2 separate regions of the Homo sapiens genome follow, and region 1 is linked to region 2. A link means that fine-mapping ties the variant in region 2 to the expression of a gene that starts in the linked region. Tissue or cell type: whole blood. Region 2 holds a variant in brackets; the other region holds the start of a gene. All regions are shown on one strand. Distances are from middle to middle.

Region 1 (6,079 bases), 31 kb after region 2:
CCTGTAATCCCAGCTACTTGGGAGGCTGAGACTGGAGAATCACTTGAACCTGGGAGACGGAGGTTGCAGTGAGCCAAGATCACGCCATTGCACTCCAGCCTGGGCGACAGAGTAAGACTCTGTCTCAAAAAAAAAAAAAAAACCCAAGAATATTATATTACTTGATTAAGAATTCTGCATGAAGAAAGTCAACCATGAAGAATGAGAAGAGTGTATACCTTGTAAGTCATCATTCCTTTCTTAACACCGGTGAAATGAGATGGAATTTTTCTGTCTTGGATCAGCTGAACTTGTGGGTTTTCTCTGGGTTAGGGGAGACAGGATGCTTTAAAATGACATTTTTCTATTTCTGGATGATATGGTGCATGAAATAACTTAAAAAACTCAAGTGGGTGTGTGTGGGAAATGAGTGGCTATGCAGATGAAACAAGATTGCATGGGTGATAGTCTTTGAAGCTGGTTGATGAGGACATCCAGATTCACCATATTTACGATTCTTTCCATATAAAGTTAAAAATGTCAGTTCTCTCAGTGTTTTCTACAGGACATTGGGGAAAAAAAGAGGGAGGTGAATGCTGTAATCAAAATTTTGAAAACAGAGTTTGGAAAACACTAGATCCTTTCCTTGAAAGCCACAGTGCGTATTAGCATGTTAAAGACTTAGGATTACTGCATTAAAGAGACCTTTTAAACACAGTTTAACCCAGTTCTATTCCCAAAGCTAACTTGACTATTGAAACTGATTTTTTCCCCATGTACACCTGTTAACAACTTGTCAAACTAGCATTTCATGGGTCACAGGCACTTCAGTTAGTCCGAGAACAAGAACCAAGGACAGTTTCCTCCTCTTTCTGCTGAGAACAGCTTTTCAGAATTGGGGAGGATTTATTTTTCTCGGATCACAGAGGAAAAGCAAGGGAACCACCTGCTGATTCAGAGTCAAGCTAATCCAGCAAACCTTACAGGGGGATCTCAGACTAGCTCCATGTGCTGGGTTATATACACACAGCAGGAAAAGACCATGTCTAGTGATAAAGGGAAAGGCATCCGGGGTCAGAGAGCCTGGGTTCAAATTCTGTCTCCACCATTCCATCTGTGTGACCATGGGCAAGATGCTTAACCTTTTTGTGCCTCAATTTCTTCATCTATAAAATAGGAATAATAAGTTTTACAAAACTTTATAGAATGGTTGCCAGATTTGGCAAATAAACATACAGGATGCCCAAATATTGCATGGGACTAAAAAATTATTTGCTATTTATCTGAAGTTCAAATTCAAATGGTCATCCCATATTTTATTTAACGACCTTATTTTAGAGGATTGTTGACAGGCTTATGTGATACAATTCATATTGAACACTCAGAACAGTGCCTTGTAAGCACTCAATTGCAGTAAGTACTTGCAGTAAGCACTCAATTGACTATTGGTTATTATCATTAATATTACCACTTTAGTTATGGGCATCTTTTAAAACAATTCTGGTTCTCCTAATAATTTTCTAAGAGTTATCTCATTTGTATAAATTAACCACTTATAGTCAAATATTCTCTTTAGTCAATAAAAATAAGAAACTGATGTTTATTGGCTTAAGTACTTAGATGGACGTTGTTTTATAAGGGCCAAGAAAGATGTATTAAATGGCCCTTCATCTACCATTAATGGAAGGAAATCATGGTAGGAAAAAATAGTTAACACTGGCTTTGTGCAATATTTGTTAATTTTTTTAGTTCTAAGAGAGCTAGCTTTGTATTTTGGCTTTCCTCAGGAAAGAATTAACTTGCAGTCCCTGAATATAGGAAACCCACAACAATTTGGTAGTCAAAGGAAGTTAGCCTGGGCTAACTTGGGTAAAACATGGAGGAGGGAATACATCATGTACAGTGAGCTTGGAGTAACTTGGATTTCTCAGAGGACTGCCACTCAACCAGCTTGTCACAGGTTTACAGTATTACAAGCACGGCAGATGCAGTACAATTTCTACAGTCCCTAAACTTGCCTCATGCACATGTTAGCAAGAAAACTACTGATAGAAGTACAAGCCTAGCTCACATGGGTTTCCCTAAAGAAGGCACACAGTATTATATATTTTTTTTCTGCACAGAAGTCTGACAGCTGGTGAATCATTTGTAAATAAATTGATAGTTTGTTTCACTGGGTTTTCTGTCATTGTTGACTCATGACCTAGTAAGGATTTACTGGACTATAAGAATAATGATTCAAATAAGCACATGGGTATCATATTTTCTGTAGAAAGTAAAGAGCTTTGAATATCCCATGCTGAAAAAAAAAAAAGCCTGAACTTTAATTTTTAAGGAAACAGTGACTTTCCTTCAAATTATAAAAATAATTTTTGAGTATTCTTGACAGAAAGAAAATTTACCTACTTATCAGCCCACTTTCACTATCTCAAATAAAAAAATGTAGGGAAGAGAAAGAAAACGAGAGAGGAAAGGCAAGAAGCAGCTTAGAGGCTTAGAGGCAGAGAAAGAGTGAAACAGAAGGAAAAAAAGATACAGAAACAGAAAATCAGACTCTTAGGTAACATGATGAATCCCCTTCACTTTGCAAACCCTCTTTCCATCTATTTTCAAACAATGTCAACAGTATATTTTCTTTTCTTGATATTATGCATCAGCCACCCCCCACCTTTTTTCATAACTGGTCACATGTGCCAATGATTTTAATCGTCAACTAAATCTATATATCAGAAAATCATCCTAAAATTCCAAATTTAGATTCACTTTTATGCTTCAAGGTTGTTTACAAATAGTTGTTCTAATTTCCTGATAAACAAAGGTGAAAGGACTACTTAATTCAGAAAATGACTGTTTTTTGGCTTGCAAACAAATAATGATTAAATTGAATGAAGCCAGCTCTTGGTACATAAACAGCGCCAGCTGTGGTTTCTTCTGGACTGGTGTGGCTGTCAAAAGGAATCTGAATTCAAGGCAGTTGTAAAGTAAGTAAATAAATAACATCAGCAAAAGCAAATAAAAAGCAACCCCTAAAAAAACAGCGACCAAAAAATATTTTTGTTAGGACACGTTAGGTCTTCATTAAGAGGAACTTGCAAAACTTGATTATTCACTTTCTGAGTTTGAACAGAGCCTGGTCTCTGGGAAACAATCCAAGGATAAGATGAAACCTGACGCTTGCCTTATCAGACTTTGCTGGGAACACAGTTTTAAGGAAAAAGCAATGAGAAAAGTCTACTTACCAAAGTCACAAACTTCAACTCCTTGGCTAGTACACTTCGGTCTAGCCAGAAAAAAAGCAGAAACAAGAAGCCAAGGCTAAGGCTTGCTGCCCTGGCCAGGAGGAGGGGTGCAGCTCTCATGTTGAGGAGAGCTGTTTCTGGCAGGAGTTAGGAGGAACTGCTACCACTTCAAAAGCCTGTAGAGGGGAAGCTATTTAATTAAGGGATTGAAAGGGAAGGAGGAGCCACACTCATAAGTAGTAAAGTTTCCAGGAAGCGTAGGGCAGGTTTGGTATGTAAATAATGTCATGTAAATTTTGAGCTGAGAGAGATCACAGTTTCCCCATTTAAGTTAGGACACCAAGGCCAAGAGCGGGGAAAGCTGTTGATCAAGGTCACAGAGCATGTTAGCAGACATTTCTATCCTTGTTTTCAGTTTACTTTTATCTTTGTTTTTTGTTTTTTTTTTTTTGAGACAGAGTCTTGCTCTGTCATCCAGGCTGGAGCACAGTGGCACAATCTCAGCTCACTGCAAACTCCGCCTCCCAGGTTCAAGCAATTCTCCTGCTTCAGTCTTCCTGAGTAGCTGGGATTACAGGCGTGCACCACCACACCCGGCGAATTTTTGTATTTTTAGTAGAGACGGGGTTTCACCATGTTGGTTAGGCTGGTCTCCAACTCCTAACCGCATGATCCGCCTGCCTTGGCCTCCCAAAGTGCTGAGATTACAGGCATGAGCCACTGTGCCAAGCCAGTTTACTTTTATCTTTTCTTTAGATAGGGTATGATACAGCGTTGGATTTGTGGCTGTCACTTGGGAAAGGGATCTACCCTGACTTTAGAAACCTTAGACCAGTGATTCTTAATCTGTTGGGAGTCCAAAGTTATAGGACTGAAATCTGGAAGGAAATACAGGTGTTGACATATTTGGGGCCTATTTCCATGCCAAACATGGCTACTTTTTCAAAAACTCTCATGTAGCCTATAGAGGTATTTTTAAATTAAAGAAGAAAAGTAACAGCAAGTTTATTTTGAAAAATTTTAGGCTGGGCGTGGTGGCTCATGTCTGTAATCCCAGCACTTTGGGAGGCCGAGGTGGGCAGATCACTTGAGGTCAGGAGTTAAGACCAGCCTGGCCAGCATGGTGAAACCCCATCTCTACTAAAAATACAAAAAAAAAAAATTAGCCTGGCGTGGTGGCACATGCCTATAGTCCCAGCTACCTGGGAGGCGAGGCAGGAGAGTCACTTGAACCCAGGAGGTGGAGGTTGCAGTGAGCCGAGATTGTGCCACTGCACTCCAGCCTGAGTGACAGAGCAAGACTCCATCTCAAAACACAGCAAAACAAACAAACAACAACAAAAAACAAACAAAAGAAAAATTTTAGTCACACCTTAAGACAATTGGACATTACCTGTGGTATCTCAAAATTAGATTGGAGGTCCCTTTCCAAACCTGACAGAGTTTTTTAAGAAAGCAAAAAGCCCAAACCTACAATTCTATATTATTAGTCATCAACTTTGGCCATAAGCCTTAAATTTTGAGTGAGTTACATCCTTGCCTCTCCAGCTATGATCTCACTGGGGACACTACAAAAGGCGATCCAGACTGATGGAACTTTGCTTTCCATTTTCCCCAACCTGTCAGTTCCATCATAGGCTAAAACAATACAAACTTGAGGTGCACATTGAGATTTTGCAAGATTTGGGGGCAGAGCTGCCTGTCATGATATTTCTATCATAATGGCAGAGGGAGAACAATGGTTTACCCGCAACCTGTTTCCTGGTACATTGCGCTTACCTGTGGCAGGAGGATTGTGTTCTTATGTGATCATAGGATGCCCTGGAATGTGGTATATGGGAGAACTGTTCCTTCTTCCGGCAGTAGGAAACATGCGCAAATAGGCTGGGCATGGTGGCTCACGCCTGTAATCCCACCACTTTGGGAGGCTGAGGTGGGCAGATCACTTGAGATCAGGAGTTCGAGACCAGCCTGGTCAATGTGGTGAAACCCCATATCTACTAAAAATACAAAAATTAGCCAGGTGTGGTGGTGGGAGCCTGTAATCCCAGCTACCTGGGAGGCTGGGGCAGGAGAATCACTTGAATCCGGGAGGCTGAGGTTGCAGTGAGCTGAGATCACACCACTGCACTCTAGCCTGGGCAATAGAGTGAGACTCTGTCCCCCCTCCAAAAAAAAAAAAAAATGTGCAAATAATAAATGCATGTGTGATTAGGATTAACCATTCAAGGGAACTTGCAACTTTCTCTTTGCCATCACATTCTCGACCTGCCAGTCTACACTGTCAATTTTAATGAGTAAGATTTTGAGGAAATGGGTGCAAGAAAAAGGAAATAAAAATTGGGAGGTTTTCCAGTCCAGGGCATACATGAAGTTGATACATTAATCCCTGCTGTGTGCACCAGGCAATCTGAGAAAGGAAGCTCCAGCACCTATGTACCATTCACAGGCAAATTTCTGAACCACATTTCTTAAATTGTGCCAGATGTCTGCTTCTATTGAATGCCTTATTTTCTCAGCTATCTGCCTGGGTCCTTGTTCTATCTCCTTCCTTGTCTCACCCTTGGACTGGTGCTTGGAACTATTTCAGCAATAGCCTTAGACCTTCCTGATAATGAAGACTGATTTTATAATCTACCTATACCATGTTGCACTGGTTGGATAAACCCTCTTTCTGACCTAGACCCTAATTTTTTCTGTGGTACCGCCTGTGGGGTCCTTTTAGCTCTTCAAGTGAGAAGGGCAACAACAACAAAGTTTTCTTTGAAAACCAGAAAAAGCCTGCTTGAATTGAATACATCTCAACTCAAACTTAATCCAAGTTGAATTAAATGGTTTATACTTCTATCTCAATCATCATC
Region 2 (6,079 bases):
GTCACCTCTTTCACCTTCTTGCATGAATGAAAACATGACTTTCTTTCTCCAGCCACAGCTGAGAAACCTTTTGTCATGGAGATGTGAGTGAAAGGAGTCAGCATGCTATGTCCTGTTTCCCTGCTCATCCCAGACTCCATGGGCAGCTATTTGAATGTATAATACAATTGCAGAATTTTCCCCAAACACTGTGTCTCTCCTTGGCGTCTCAGACTCTTCTCTCCCTGGCTTCTCCAAGATGAAAGCCTTTTCTAAGATCTCTTGCTCTCTTTTCTTTCTACTCCCAAATGTAGCTCCAACTTTGAGTTGCAGTCCTTCTTCCCTTTCCTCCTTCTATTCTCTTTGCCATCTGAAGTTTTCTGCTGGGATGCCCCTGTGGCATTTCAAACCCATTGCCTAATCAGTACATTTGCCTGGCCCAAGACCACCTCCTTCCTGCCACTGAAAACTGAAATCTTGACTTCATCTGGGGCTTCACCTTCCACATCATTGTCTTCCACCCACTTCCAATTCATCACTGAGAATGCACACTCAGCTTTTCTTGTAACCTGGCTCACTTCTTTTCCTCTCCTGCCGCTGCCCTAATTTTAGGCCATATCCCCATTTTTCTAGACTATCACAAAAGCTTTCTACACCATATCCTGTTCCCAACATCCAGTTATTCTATAAAATAATTAATTTCCAAAATGCTGCTCCTATCCTGTCACTCCTGCCCTGCCTTCCCTGAGCAAACACTGACAGGGGGGTTCTCCCTTGCTTCCTTGCTTCTTTCTACAATTAAACAAAGAAGCAGCAGGACAACATGGCCCTTCAGCTGCCATCCAGCATAAACTTCTGACACTCCATATCAGGGCTATCTAAAAAACCTTCCATGATGATGGAGATGTTGTATATCTGTGCTCTCCAATTCAGTAGCCACTGGCTATATATGGCTATTGAACACCTGAAATGTGGCTAATACAACCGAGGGACTTAATTTTTCATTCTACTTAATCATAATTAATTTAAATGTAAGTAGCTACTTCTGGCTACTAGGTTCCATATTGAGCAGCACAGTTAACATCCACTAATTTGGTACCACTTTTTGGACACAACATTCCTGGCCTTCCACTTCTGTCCTAATAATTTACTTTATTTGTCCTACACACTAGTGAGGAGCACTTACTAACCCCTTTCATTTTGATGTGTTGGATGTGCTGCCTTGTCTAGGAAGCCTTTCTGCTTCTCTTCTCCACCCTCTTGGAACAGAAGGGATGGCTAGATTTTCTGAGGTGCCATAGCACTTGCCTGCATGGTATTTCCATCCCATTTTGTATAGTGTTTATGTTTGTCTTCTTGTTAGTTTAGATTATAAATCCCTTAAAGGACAGAATGATGCATTTAATTCTAAAAGCTTTGTGCAAGTGCCTACCACGTACAAGGAGATGGGGAAATGAAGATTAAAAAAAGATGAGGTCCTGTGCTTCAAGAGATCACACACTTGAACAAACATATGTTAAATGAAGATGAAAATACTTACCGCAGAATACATGATGAGTTTTTTGTAGCTTGGTATCTGAGTTGCTCTCTTCATGTGATTGAGGATTTCATTGACCAGGACACCTTAAAGAAGATGAATCAATAACCAAACTGAACCAAACATAAGCTTCTATTTTAGTTCATTAGCTTTTTGTCACTTCATAGTTGCGGACTCTCCCTGCCATGACTTAAGAAGAGGGGCAAAGATCTAATTTTATTGAGCATCTGCTCTGTGCTAGGTAATGTGATTTACATACTTTTTTTTTTTTAAACTGAATCCTACGTCTCAACCCTCATTTTTAGGTAAGGAATCTTAAGTCCAAAGATATTAAGTGACTCACACAGCCAGGTAAGGAAAGCTGGATTGGCACACTAGGACTCTACCATACCGGGTTTTGTTAAAGCTCAGGTTAGGAGGCTGATAAGCTTGGAAGGAACTTCAGACAGCTTTTTCAGATCATAAAAGATAATTCTTAGCCCATGTTCTTCTCCAGAGCAGACCTGAAATGACAGCACAGCAGGTACTCCTCTATTTTCACCCCTCTTGCTTCTACTCTCTGGCAGTCAGACCTGTGGGAGGCCATGGGAGAAAGCAGCTCTCTGGATGTTTGTACAGATCATGGACTATTCTCTGTGGACCATTTCTCCAGGTTACCCTAGGTGTCACTATTGGGGGGACAGCCAGCATCTTTAGCTTTCATTTGAGTTTCTGTCTGTCTTCAGTAGAGGAAACTTTTGCTCTTCACACTTCACATCTGAACACCTAACTGCTGTTGCTCCTGAGGTGGTGAAAGACAGATATAGAGCTTACAGTATTTATCCTATTTCTAGGCACTGAGGGCTGTGGGGTACCTTGTGGTGCCAAAACAGATCCTGTTTTAAGGACATGTTGCTTCAGAGATGTCTGTAACTATCTGGTGTCTCTGTTGGTCTCTTTACCCTGCATCATGTGCTCTCTTGGCTGAGAATGACCAGTAGGGTGTGTTAGGGTGTGTGTGTGTGTGAGTTGTAATGAGCAGGGCATTGATATTAACAGATTGACTATAATCTCAGGTTCTGTAGTCCACTCAACAAACACACACTGAGCAGCTATGATGCGCCAGATACTGTGCTAGGAGAATCAGACCTGGTCCCTGCCCTCCAAAAACTCATAAAATAGTAAGAAGAGACAGGTCTGTACACCAGTAAGTATAAAAAAGGGTTAATTAAGGAGGTAGGTATCTGCTCTTTCTATAAGATACTGGAAATTCCTTGAGGATGAATAGGATAATCTGAATGTACATGTCTAACAGGTCTAAATCCCTCCATCTCAGAGAGGGTTGCCCTGTGGAATGCATTAGGGACTTTAGCTTGATTCACATGCCATGTTGGTGCTAAACTCTGTGGCCAAGCTTTTGGGAGCCATGACAGCCACCTGAAATCAGCAAGTTGCCCTTTGTCAACAAGTGCCTTTT[A/G]GTCAGGCTGCAGTTTTGGTCATGAATATATCAGTTCTTGGTTCTGGTATGATTACACCCTTATCCCAGGAGTGATTAGGGGTGACTATCATGATTATCCTCAGGCTCTGGCATATCAATATTCTGTTTTATAGGGGAAACTGAGGCTTGGAGAGGCTCAGAAACTTGATTAGATTATACAACTTGCAAGCAGAGAAGGAGGGCTTTAAATCTAGCATGTCCTGTGTCAAAACCTTTATTTGTAATCATTAGAACATGCTATCGTGGAAAGCTAGCTTCAAAGTTATCTGTTGTATCCTTTATTAAATCTTCGTAAACTAGACAAAAATATCATTGACCTGAAGACATAAACTTTGCTTCCTTCATTTCTAGTCTACAGCAGAGGTTGGCAAACTTTTCTGTAAAAGTCCAGAGAGTAAATGTCTTAGGCTTTGTGGGTTAAAAAATCTGTTGCAACTACTCAGCTCTGCGGTGGTAGCATGAAAGCAGCAATAGACAATGCATAAATGAATGAGTGTGGCTGTATTTCAATAAAACTTTATTTACAAAACCAGGTAGTGGGCTGGATTAGGCATACAGGCAGTAGTTTGCCAACCTCTGGCCTAGAGCAAGAAGAGCTCTCTTTTCACTGATATGACCAGCCATATGATCCTAAATTTGCCCCAGGGATTTTTTTGGTGTGTGTGTGTGTGTGTGTGTGTGTGTATGTGTGTGTGTCTTACTGAACAGTGTCACCCCTGAAGTTAAATGATGAAATAAAAATTCTAGACTGGGCACAGTAGTTCATGCCTATAATCCCAGAACTTTGGGAGGCCAAGGTGGAGGATCGCTTGAGCCCAGGAGTTCAAGACTAGCCTGGGCAACATAAGGAGACCCTGTCTTTGCAAAAAATTTAAAAAAAATTTAGCTGGGCATGGTGGTGCATGACTGTAGTCCCAGCTACTTGGGAGTCTGAGGTGGGAGGATCGCTTGAGCCTGGGAGGTCAAGGCTACAGTGAGCCGTGATCATGCTGCTGCACTCCAGCCTGGAGGACAGAATGAGACCCTGTCTCAAAAACAGACACAAAAACAAACAAAAAATACAAAGAAACAAAAACAAAACAAACTAACAAAAAAACTAGCAAAGGTCAGAAGATGGCCCTGATGTGTCCACATTACTCTTTGTCACCTAGACAATGTGTGTTTTCTGTGCAGGAATGTGTGCAGCTGTTTCATCATTCAATAAACATGTAGTTGACAAATCTCTCTTGCCCAGCCAGATCTGAATAATAGTCTGAGCTTTTGTTTTGGCAGAACCACACAGGAGAAATTTTCCTGCTTAACAATGGCGCTGGACTTTTTCCAGAAAGCAGGACAGCTGGTTTCATACAAGTGCCAGCCTTTAGAATCCAAGATCAGAGAACAACTCAGAGAAGGACTCTTATAGACAGTCTAGTTTAATCTCCTCATAGGTAGTGAAACAGAGATCCAGAGAGGGGAAGTGGCTTCTCCCAAATGTAATCTTCTAGTAGGCAAGGGAAATAAAAGAGGAAACATGAGGAAAGTGGAGCAACTCCATTTCTTATTCATACATACACATCCCTACATCTACTATTAGACTACTGTCAACTCCTGTCTGGTATAAAGCATGTTGGGATTTTATTCAAATGCAGATCCTGATTCAACTCGTTTGGGAGTGGGGCCTGTGTTTCTAGCCAGGTGGTAGTTGATGCCGATGCTGAAAAGTAGACTGCACTTTGAGTTGTGAGGGACTAGGTGCCTGAATCCACCATAACTAGGTTGGGGGAAATAAATCAAGAGTCCCGCTTCCACCATTTGATGGGGCTTGCAACTGAGTCACACTGCTGGCACCTGGTGGGCCAGAAATGAGGCTGAGTGCTTATGTGGCTTCCAAGGCACCCTCTACATCTTTTGTTGTTAAGCACTTAAGATTGAGCTTCTTCCTGGGTTCTGCCCATAGACACAGTCTGTATCCCGCCTGGTAATTTTTTCCAACACTCCAGCTTCCATCTAAGACTCCTCTCTGGAGACTCTCCCTTCCTCAAGGCTGGATCTTGTTGCTCATGTGTTTAATGTGAAGTAAGGACTTGCACATTTCTATCAAGTCTGTCTCTGTGCCATGCAATCAGGATTTTTGTAATAGCAGATCTACAACAACCTCATGTCGTTAATGGCCACTGTCCTAAATTTTTTGCCCCAACCTACTTTATTCATCTCACATGAATTTGCTCCTGACCATCCTGGTTTCATACCTCATTCCCCTGGTTACAGCTTGCCTCACTCTTTATACCTGGTGTGCAGCCCTGCTTTTCTAGCTATAATTGATTCCTTTTCTGGTCAGTGATTTGAATTTTTTCCCTAGTTAAGTAGCCTCAGTGAACAACCTCCCAGTCTGGTCCAGCCCTAATATGCTTTGCCTCTATGCATTCTCTTGGGATTTTGATGGACTTGTCCTGATGCTGTGGTGAATAGTGTCTGTCAATGGCTGGAATCATGATGTGATTGTATTAATCTCAAAATGCCTTGAATATGTGTGTCAGCCTGACTTGGACCATCTCCTGTGGCTTGGACTTTCCTCATTACGTCAACCTGACATGATGAACTTTCTCTTCTTCTTTATCCCTAGTTTTAATACCTATGATAACCACATCTAAGTCTGACACCTCATTTGGTATCTTGGCCTGCCCATCCAGTTTCTCTCATAAGCCCCAACATCTGTCCTTGTCTTTGCTGGTCCTGACTTTTTTCTTCCATCCACTTATCCTGATTACAAGAATCCAGCATCCTCTTGCCTGGGTCTGCCTTCATATGACAGGGTGTCCTGTGCTACGAAGAGCCAGTTCTAACCAAGAAGAGGCATCACTGATAAATAAATCTCAACAGCTTTCAATGTCAATGAAAAATTTCAAGCTGTGTTATAAACTTGTCAATTGCAACATATTTTAACAGCACATAATTGGTCTGAAAAATATAACAATTAGCCTGAAAAATATATTTTATCGGCTTTCACAATGACTACCACTCAGGGTTTCAGGAAAACAGGCCACTTTTGTCATACCTCCCACTTGAAAAATTCATCATATAGGCCACAAGACACAATTGATTTT

Evidence for each region. PIP is the estimated chance that this variant, and not a neighbour inherited with it, causes the effect.
Region 1: it holds the start of ACP3, and the variant in region 2 is fine-mapped to the expression of ACP3 in whole blood (INTERVAL, PIP 0.95).

What each region holds. Positions count from the first base shown.
Region 1 is chr3:132,314,716-132,320,794 of GRCh38, reverse strand. It overlaps ACP3 (acid phosphatase 3), which reads right to left and starts at 3,388. Exons shown (of 10, transcript NM_001099.5): 1 at 3,219-3,388. The coding sequence starts at 3,338.
Region 2 is chr3:132,345,443-132,351,521 of GRCh38, reverse strand. ACP3 (acid phosphatase 3) reads right to left here. Exons shown (of 10, transcript NM_001099.5): 8 at 1,520-1,602. Among named protein-coding and RNA genes, the nearest start is that of ACP3, 31 kb to the right of the region's middle. The variant A/G (reference allele first, on the strand shown) is at 2,973.